Homo sapiens: one gene and its partner. Changing the gene in region 2 together with the main gene of any one other region gives a genetic interaction. Each region holds a gene or a part of one and is shown on either strand. Other genes may lie near its edges.

Region 1 (3,902 bases), on a different chromosome or scaffold from region 2:
ACCCTGCATGGGCAACAGCAGTGCCTTAACAAAGCAGGCCCCACTCTCTTGGCTGACCCCTTATGATGCAGAGGGAGAAGGGGCAGAAGCCACATCCATAGTGTGCTGGCCCTCGGGTGATCCTGGAAAGCAGGGCTTGGAGGACGCATCCAGCCCCACCGGCAGAGGCCATCTGGAGTCAGGCCCTGGCAGAGCACTGGGGATAAGAATGTGGCCAGAGTGTTGAATAAATGGAGCCAGCAAGGCTGGCCGGGGACGCCCTACAATCACCACTGTCCCCAAACCAACAAGACAGGGGCCCAGGAGGGTGCTGGCAGGATGGTGAGTCAGGGCAGGGTCCCCTGAGGCCCTTGCACCAGTGAAGATGGGAGAGTCAGGAGTCTGACTCGCCTCCCCAGACTCAGACCCAGAGGACCCAGACCCTTCGAAATCAACTCCGAACTAGAAACTAAGACCAATGGTGGGGGCGCAGCGCACAGCACTACTGCTGGGCCCAGCACACGTGGGTATTTTACACGCCACGACCTCATTACTTTGCACGACCCCATTTTGCAGATGGGGAAGCCAAGGATGGACAAGGTCATCACCTGCTCAAGCGCATACAGCTCACAAAAGGAAGAACCAGCACCCAAACCTAGGTCGAATTTACTCTAGAGCCAGTACAAAGAGGAGTAAATCTGTACTTAGTTTTTAAAATGAATGAGATGACTATGCAGATAAACAGGAAGTCCTGTCCCCAGGGAGGTCCCACCACACAAGATTCTGGATTTTCTGAGTGATCTTGGGCTGTCCCCGCTCCAGCCATGGGCCTGTCTCCTGTCTGCAAAAAGAGCGACGGGACCTGGGATGGGCGCTGTCTAGGAACAAGTCTGTGCCAAGAGCTGTCTCCATGCCCTTTGACCTCCAGCCAGTGGCTCCAGACTTCAGTGCTCAGCCCAACAGCTTCAATAATACGAGGGTCCTTTACACCCACTCCAATTTCACAAACAGTAAGGAGCTGGGTACACTCATTTCAGATGAGAAGACTGAGGCTCAGAATGATATGGTGACTTACTCCAGGTCACACAGCAAATGAGGAACACGCTGGGGATCTGAACCTGGACTGGCCCCCACATCTCAGCCCTTTTCTTTCCTTCTTTTTTTTTTTTTTTTGATGGAGTCTTGCTTTGTCGCCCAGGCTGGAGTGCAATGACACGATCTCAGCTCACTGCAACCTCCACCTCCCAGATTCAAGCCATTCTTCCGCCTCAGCCTCCAGAGTACCTGGGATACAGGCATGTGCCACCACACCCAGCTAATTTTTGTATCTTTAGTAGAGACAGCGTTTCACCATGTTGGCCAGGCTGGTCTCGAACTCCTGACCTCAAGTGATCTGCCCGCCTCGGCCTCCCAAAGTGCTGGGATTACAGGTGTGAGCCATATCTCCTGGCCTCCTTTTTTTTGAGACATGGTCTCACTCTGACACCCACGCTGGAGTGTGATCTCAGCTCACTGTAGCCTCAACCTCCATGGCTCAGGTGATTCTCCCACCTCAGCCTCCTGAGTAGCTGAGATTACAGGCGCGTGCCGCCATGCCCAGCTACTTTTTATATTTTTCTTGTAGAGATGGGGTCTCACCATGTTGCCCAAGTTGGTTTCGAACTCCTGGACTCCAGCAATCTGTCTGTCTTGGCTTCCCAAAGTGCTGGCGTTACAGGTGTGAGCCACCGCACCTGGCCATCCCGGCATTTTTCTATTCTGCTGTGAGGCTACTGTGCATGTCTGTGCATGTCACAATCCCCATTTTCTCATTGGTTTGCTTGACTAGCCTTCAGTGAACACCCACTGCGCTGGGCACTAGCAGATATTACCAAATGCCTGCCTCCCCGGGAGTAGCTTGGGGTCGCAGAGAAAAACCTTTAAACCAGCTGCACCACACACTCTCCCTCCCTCTGAGCTCCAGGGTGTCCATAGGGGAGGCTCATCTACTAAGCACTCAGCAATGAACTGCACATCTGGCTGGCACTTTAGAGTTTACAAAATACTTTCCCATCTGTCATTTCATCTCTGCCTTGGAACAGTTCTTGGTCAGTCAGGCAGCATTATCACAAACTACAGATGGGGACACTGAGGCACAGAGGAGCTGCATGACCTTCCCACAGCCACACAAAGCCACGTCTAGAACGCAGAGCTAGACGTCTAACGTCTCCCTCGGCATGTTCTGTCTTCCACGCTCTCACTCATGTGGAGGGCTGTGGGCATACAGGCTGCTTCTGCCAGTTTTCTAGAGCGGTCTTGGGAGGCCAACTTGACCATCTGTGCCTCAGTTTCCTGATGTGCCAAACAAATAATCTGGTACTATCTCTAGGGGCTGCAGAAAGTACCCTGCAAGGAAGTGGTCAGGGAACTCCCAGTCTCCGTCCCCGTCTCCATTGAGGCTTCCTTAGCACATTTCATACTCCAAGGAACCCTAACCATGGGGTAACAGAAACCCCGAAGTTCTGAGCTGATGGACACGACACACAGACTTGGTGTTCTCTGCACTGGACAGAGCTGATTTTCATTTTCCAAGGAGGGTAACCAAGGCACAGAGGTGTGTCTAGCCTGCTTCTGAGGGTGCAGGGACAGGAATGAGGATAACTCGTAGAAGGGCTGGCCACCTCACTCCAGCAACTTCAAGCCTCCACCCGCTAATCCACAAGCACCAACACTAAATACCTTCCCTTTGGACCAATAAGCACAAAGGAAGGGCCAAGACTCATGACCGTGCCCCTCAGAAGTGGCACTGAAAGGCGCAAGCCTCATTTCTCCCAGGCCAAGGGGAGGACTGAGAGGTCAGTGATTTGTTTAAAATGCAACATCACAGCATACTCATACTTTCAACAGGAAGCACATCCGGAGAGAAAAAGAGAGAGAGAGAACTCCCTAATGAGGAGACCGCATCCCCCCACCCCACCCCCGAGGTTACAGGGGAGCCTGCGTCATCCCAAAGCCTGCCTGGGCTGGGTTCCAGGAGGCCAGGACATAGAGAGGGGGGCCTGGCTAGGGGTCCAGCAGCAACCCAAGTCCCTTCTATCTACCAATATCCTTCTCCCAGGAAGCAGGGGAGAGGATGTGAACCCCGCCTGGGTTTTCCCACACCCAGCTGGTGACCCAGCTGACCCGGGACACTGAGGCACAAAAGAACCGCATGACTCCTGCAGAAACTGGAGCTAAAAATACCCTCCAGTGCCCAGCCTGGCCTGCGAGAGGAGCCCCCTGGCCTGCCTCCCGGCAACCTGCTGCTTCCTTCCCCATCTGGGATGGCCCTGGGGCAAATCATGCCCCTGGAGCCACATTCTGACTTCAGATCCCCAAATCCTGGGGTCTTTCCTCCTCTTGGTCCCATGGGCTGGCCCCAGGGGCTCCAGCTGGAGCTAGGAACACTTACCCAGGTAGATATCTCCGAAGGACCCGCTCCCGATCTTCCGTCCCAGGCGGTACTTGTTCCCCACACGTAGCTCCATGGCTCACTCTTGCTGCAGAGGAAGCAGGAACATGAGGGTCAGCGACGTGGGGAGCCGGGAAAGGGGTCCAGTCCACCAAGGCCAGGCAGAGCCACCAGGAACTCGAAAACCTGCATTCTCGAAGACCACATTCTGCAGGTGTCAGGTGGCCCACAGCCTGCACTCCACACACCTGGGGAACAGCTAAGGCAGGCTGAGGACAGGTTTCAGTGTGGCCAGAGAGGAAGCAGCCAAGCAAGCATGTCTTTGGGGGATGCTCATTCAGGGGCCCCTCAAAAGAAGCTTCTCAAGGGATCACAACGGGCATCAGCCCTCTTACACCTCCTACCCCCCAGGCTCCCACAGCCTGGCCTGGTCTTCCCAAGTACTGCCCCTGCCCAGAGGCCAGACCTCGCCAGTGCCCAGCACGCCTTGCAG
Region 2 (3,902 bases):
ATGTGGCTTGGTGGCCAGGCCCCAGTGCCCCATCCCATCCTATCCCTCAAGGAGGCTGCCCTTGTGAGATGAGTGTAGCCCCACCAGGCCACCTGGCCAGGGTGTCGGCCACAGTCACAACTTGTTCTCTTGTTCCCCAAGGTCTTCGGGGACGAGGAAGCCACAGCCCCATGAGAACTCCAGACCCTTGTCCCTTGAGCACCCCTGGGCCGGCCCTCAGCTCCGGACCTCCGTGCAGCCCTCCCACCTCTTCATCCAAGACCCCACCATGCCACCCCACCCAGCTCCCAACCCCCTAACCCAGCTGGAGGAGGCGCGCCGACGTCTGGAGGAGGAAGAAAAGAGAGCCAGCCGAGCACCCTCCAAGCAGAGGTACGGCCGCGTCGTGGGGTGGGGTGGGTCTTGGGGGTTACCACAGCACCACTCCTGGGGCTGAAGCTCCCCGAGGCCTGAGGTCTTCAGGGGAAAAACGGCCCTCTGGGTGTCCCCCAGCCATACTGGGCCCTTCCATCCACTGAGAACCACTGAGGGGCCACGTGGCAGGCCACCCTGCGGTGGACGGAGGCTGGGGCTGGAGCTTTCACACACCCGAGGCCGCCGCGCTCATTGCTCTGGAGGCGGGGTCCCTCCTCAACCTGAGCCCAGTCTGCAGGGAGGCTGCAGGGCCCCAGTGTGTGGGGAACGCCGGTCCCCAGCCAGAGGCTGCTCGCTGCTGGGCAGCCTGGGCTTTAGGGCAGAGGTCCTGGAGGCATGGCGGCTGCCTCTTGACAGTTGCGTCCCAGGAGCCCTGAGTGGCTCTGCACGGTCGGAAAGCTACGTGGTTCTGAAAGCCGTGCAGATGTAGAAGTGTCGTCCTGGACGTCCAGCCCACAGCCCTCCTCGCTGTGTCCTCTTGTCATCCTGGATGTCCAGCCCACAGCCCTCCTCACTGTGCCCTTCTCTCATCCGGGACGTCCAGCCCACAGCCCTCCTCACTGCGCCCTCCTTGGTCTTCTGGGCTCCGTAGCCAGACCCTGTTCTCTCCCTAGGGCAGGGAGGCTTCTGTCTGGGCTGCAGGGAGGTCTCCCCTTTGTGTGGGCAGCATTTTCGCTCCAGGCCAGAACCTGGCTTCTCCATTTTCAGCTTGCTCATAAGGCCAGTTTTCTCGGCCATCCTGGGTCATTGGAATTCCCCACAGATCAGTGTCTCTTTGAGGGTCCTGGGAGCCTATAGCTCACCCAGGCCCTGGGGCTGTGGTCACAGAGGCCATGGTTGCCTTCAGAGGTCACCAGCTCCTCCTGTCCACCTTGGGTCACCTGGGGCCTGGGGTCCAGGCCCGCCTCCCGGGCCTCCAGCTTTGGGGCTGTGCCACTCCAGGGAGGCTGTGGCTAGGGGCCTTATTCTGCCGAACCAGCATCAGGGTTCAGACCCTTCCCAGCTGAAAGCCTGTGTGGTCTCAAGTCATTAAAGGTTCCTGAGCTTCTGCCAGGCTGTGAGCCTAATGACAGCTCTGGGGCCAGAAAGGGTCACAGTTACCTCAAACCCAAAGGGTGACCACTTTATGACCAAACATCTGTGACCCTGTGATCGTGTTCGGCCAACAAGGAGCTGGAGCCCCCTGCCATGCAGGAGCCTGGAGTGTGGTGCTCGGAGCCGGGGCGTGTGACTGGGCTGGCAGATGAGCCGTGGTGGGCATCGTGTGCAGCAGGTCCGAGGCCCTGGGCGTGTGTGGGCTCTCCTGCCGGGGCTTCCTGAGCCATCCTTGCTGGGCTGAGCAGGGGTCTCTCAGGTTGCGTCTGCGCTTTCCCCTGGTACCCGTGGCCCCACATGATGGCAGGGGATGCCCGCTGAGCCGTGGGACCACTCCCGCCGTTCTGAGACACGACCCTCCCGCCCGTTTGGCTGCTGGGCTCCAGCATCCCCCCATGGGGAAACCCAGAGTTGCTGGGTTTGTCCGTCCAGGGGATGTGGGTTTTTGCGAGAAGCTGTGGAGACGGAGTGAAGGCCCAGAGGCAGGTTGGGTGCTGGGCCCTGTCAGGATGTCAGAGTAGAAACCACCATCAAGGTCGCCCAGTGTACCCCGGTGGAGGTGTCCACGTGAGAGGAGCTGCTGTGCTGCCCCAGGATGGCCTCAGTTGTGGCGCCGGGGGGCCCTCAGCCTCCCTGAGGTGCAGACCGAGTTGCCACGCACGCCCCAGAGCCAGTGTCCACGCTATCGGTGGGGAATTCATGCCAAGAGACTGAAGGACAGACTCTCGGGACGAGATGTCATCCCACCAGAGGGGATGAGGTGGTGGGATCCCAGCACCCCTGATCGGAAGCTCCCCAAAGTGCGGTCCAGGGAACTCAGGGGGTTGGTGCCGGGATCATGAATGTGGGGCGCGCTGCAGTATCGGGTACCACCAAGGCAGGCCTAGGAGGGGACTCGGTGTCTTGTCTACCCTGCAAACTGGAGCCTGCGCAGGGTGGGTTGTTCGGGCCCTTCACGCTCCGTCCGTCCCTGCGCAGCAGCATTGGTCGAGGCTCCCTCCCCAGGGCTGGTGGCCGCCGGCACAGCCACCTTTGACGCGGGTTGTTCCCTAGGTATGTGCAGGAGGTTATGCGGCGGGGACGCGCCTGCGTCAGGCCAGCGTGCGCGCCGGTGCTGCACGTGGTACCAGCCGTGTCGGACATGGAGCTCTCCGAGACAGAGTACGTGCGTCCTGAGGGTCCTCCCGGTCCTGCCCACCCCAGCCCTGGCGTCCCAAGCCAGGTCCCATCGTAGAGCCGCCGTCCCGGGGCTTGAGCTCGGGTACCACGCTCAGAAGCAGCTGTGGCAGGAGAGGGTCCCGTGGCATCAGACTCGAAGCTGCCCGAGAGCCTTCTCCTGTCTCCATCAAAGGAGACGCTGACTGTCCAGCATGATGACAAGTGACCAAAAGGCCCGGCTGGAGGCCTGGGCACAGCCAGCCCCTGCATCCACACAGGTGTCACGGCCAGGCTTCCTGTGGGGCAGAGACCTGCCTGCGCCTCCACCCGGCTTGGAACGGGCCGGTCCCTGCCAGGCCTGACTTGACCAGGCTCGGGGCTGCAGGTGCTGAGGTGCCCGGGGTGCGTCTGCTTGCAGTGTGGGTCTCAGCCATGCGTGTCTGTCCAGCCCGTGCAGTCAGTGAGTCGGGGCTCTGCTCCCACCTACAATGCTGACTGCTCTGAACCCGTGAGAAAGGGCTCAGACCATGTGATCCCACATGGGCCGTGTCGACGGCGCCTTTATGTGCTCAAGGTGGCAGGAGGAGGGGGCACACCCCAAAAGGGGCCTTGAGAACAAGGGTCCCCCAGGCCTTGCCAGGCTTGCCCCAGATGCAGGTTTGTTGTGGCCCTCATCGTGTAGGCGGTCTTGGGGCAGCCTTCACCTGTCCCTGGGGCAGCCCCCACGTGTTGGCTCTTCTCTGATGGGCCTGGCTCCAGGAGGCTCCGAGGATGTGGCACTGGGAGGACGTCTAAGAGCGCACGTGGCTGGGGGCCTGGTGTGCAAAGAGGATGGTCACATGGCTCAGGTGGCCATGAGGCCTTCCTGCCCTGGTGTTGGCTCTGGAAGCCTCTGGTGCACCCAGCCAGGAGGAGGCCCAAGGGCTGAACCCCAGTGGGCCAGGGGCAGCTTCTGGAGTCACTTGAAGGACAGGTGGCGGCGGGGTAGCCGAGTGGGGGGTGCGAGAGCAACCAGGCCCCGCCCGTCATCCCGGCACGGCTGTGGAAGCACAGCACCTGTCAGAGGAGGGCCCGGCTCAGCCTGGGCAGGAGACGGTGCCAGCCCTGCCCCCTCTGAAGGGCCTGCTGGCCACCCCCGCCCCAGTCCTCCGACAAACTTCGCTGCGGGGTCAGGCTTATCCAGAAATCGTGCACAGTTCTGTTTGTCCAATCCCTGCCCTTCAGATGTTTTTAAG

The links.
Region 1: of AXIN1 (region 2) and CSNK1E, changing one suppresses a phenotype caused by changing the other (phenotypic suppression), as found in Homo sapiens cells (one study listed by BioGRID).

What each region holds. Positions count from the first base shown.
Region 1 is NC_000022.11:38,310,673-38,314,574, forward strand, and holds part of CSNK1E (casein kinase I), read right to left. Parts: intron 3,498-3,902; 5' UTR 3,486-3,497; coding exon 3,410-3,485; intron 1-3,409. Other genes in the region: TPTEP2-CSNK1E (casein kinase I), read right to left, coding at 3,410-3,485.
Region 2 is NC_000016.10:289,958-293,859, reverse strand, and holds part of AXIN1 (axin-1), read left to right. Parts: intron 1-141; coding exon 142-372; intron 373-2,562; coding exon 2,563-2,670; intron 2,671-3,902. UniProt on the Homo sapiens protein: Component of the beta-catenin destruction complex required for regulating CTNNB1 levels through phosphorylation and ubiquitination, and modulating Wnt-signaling.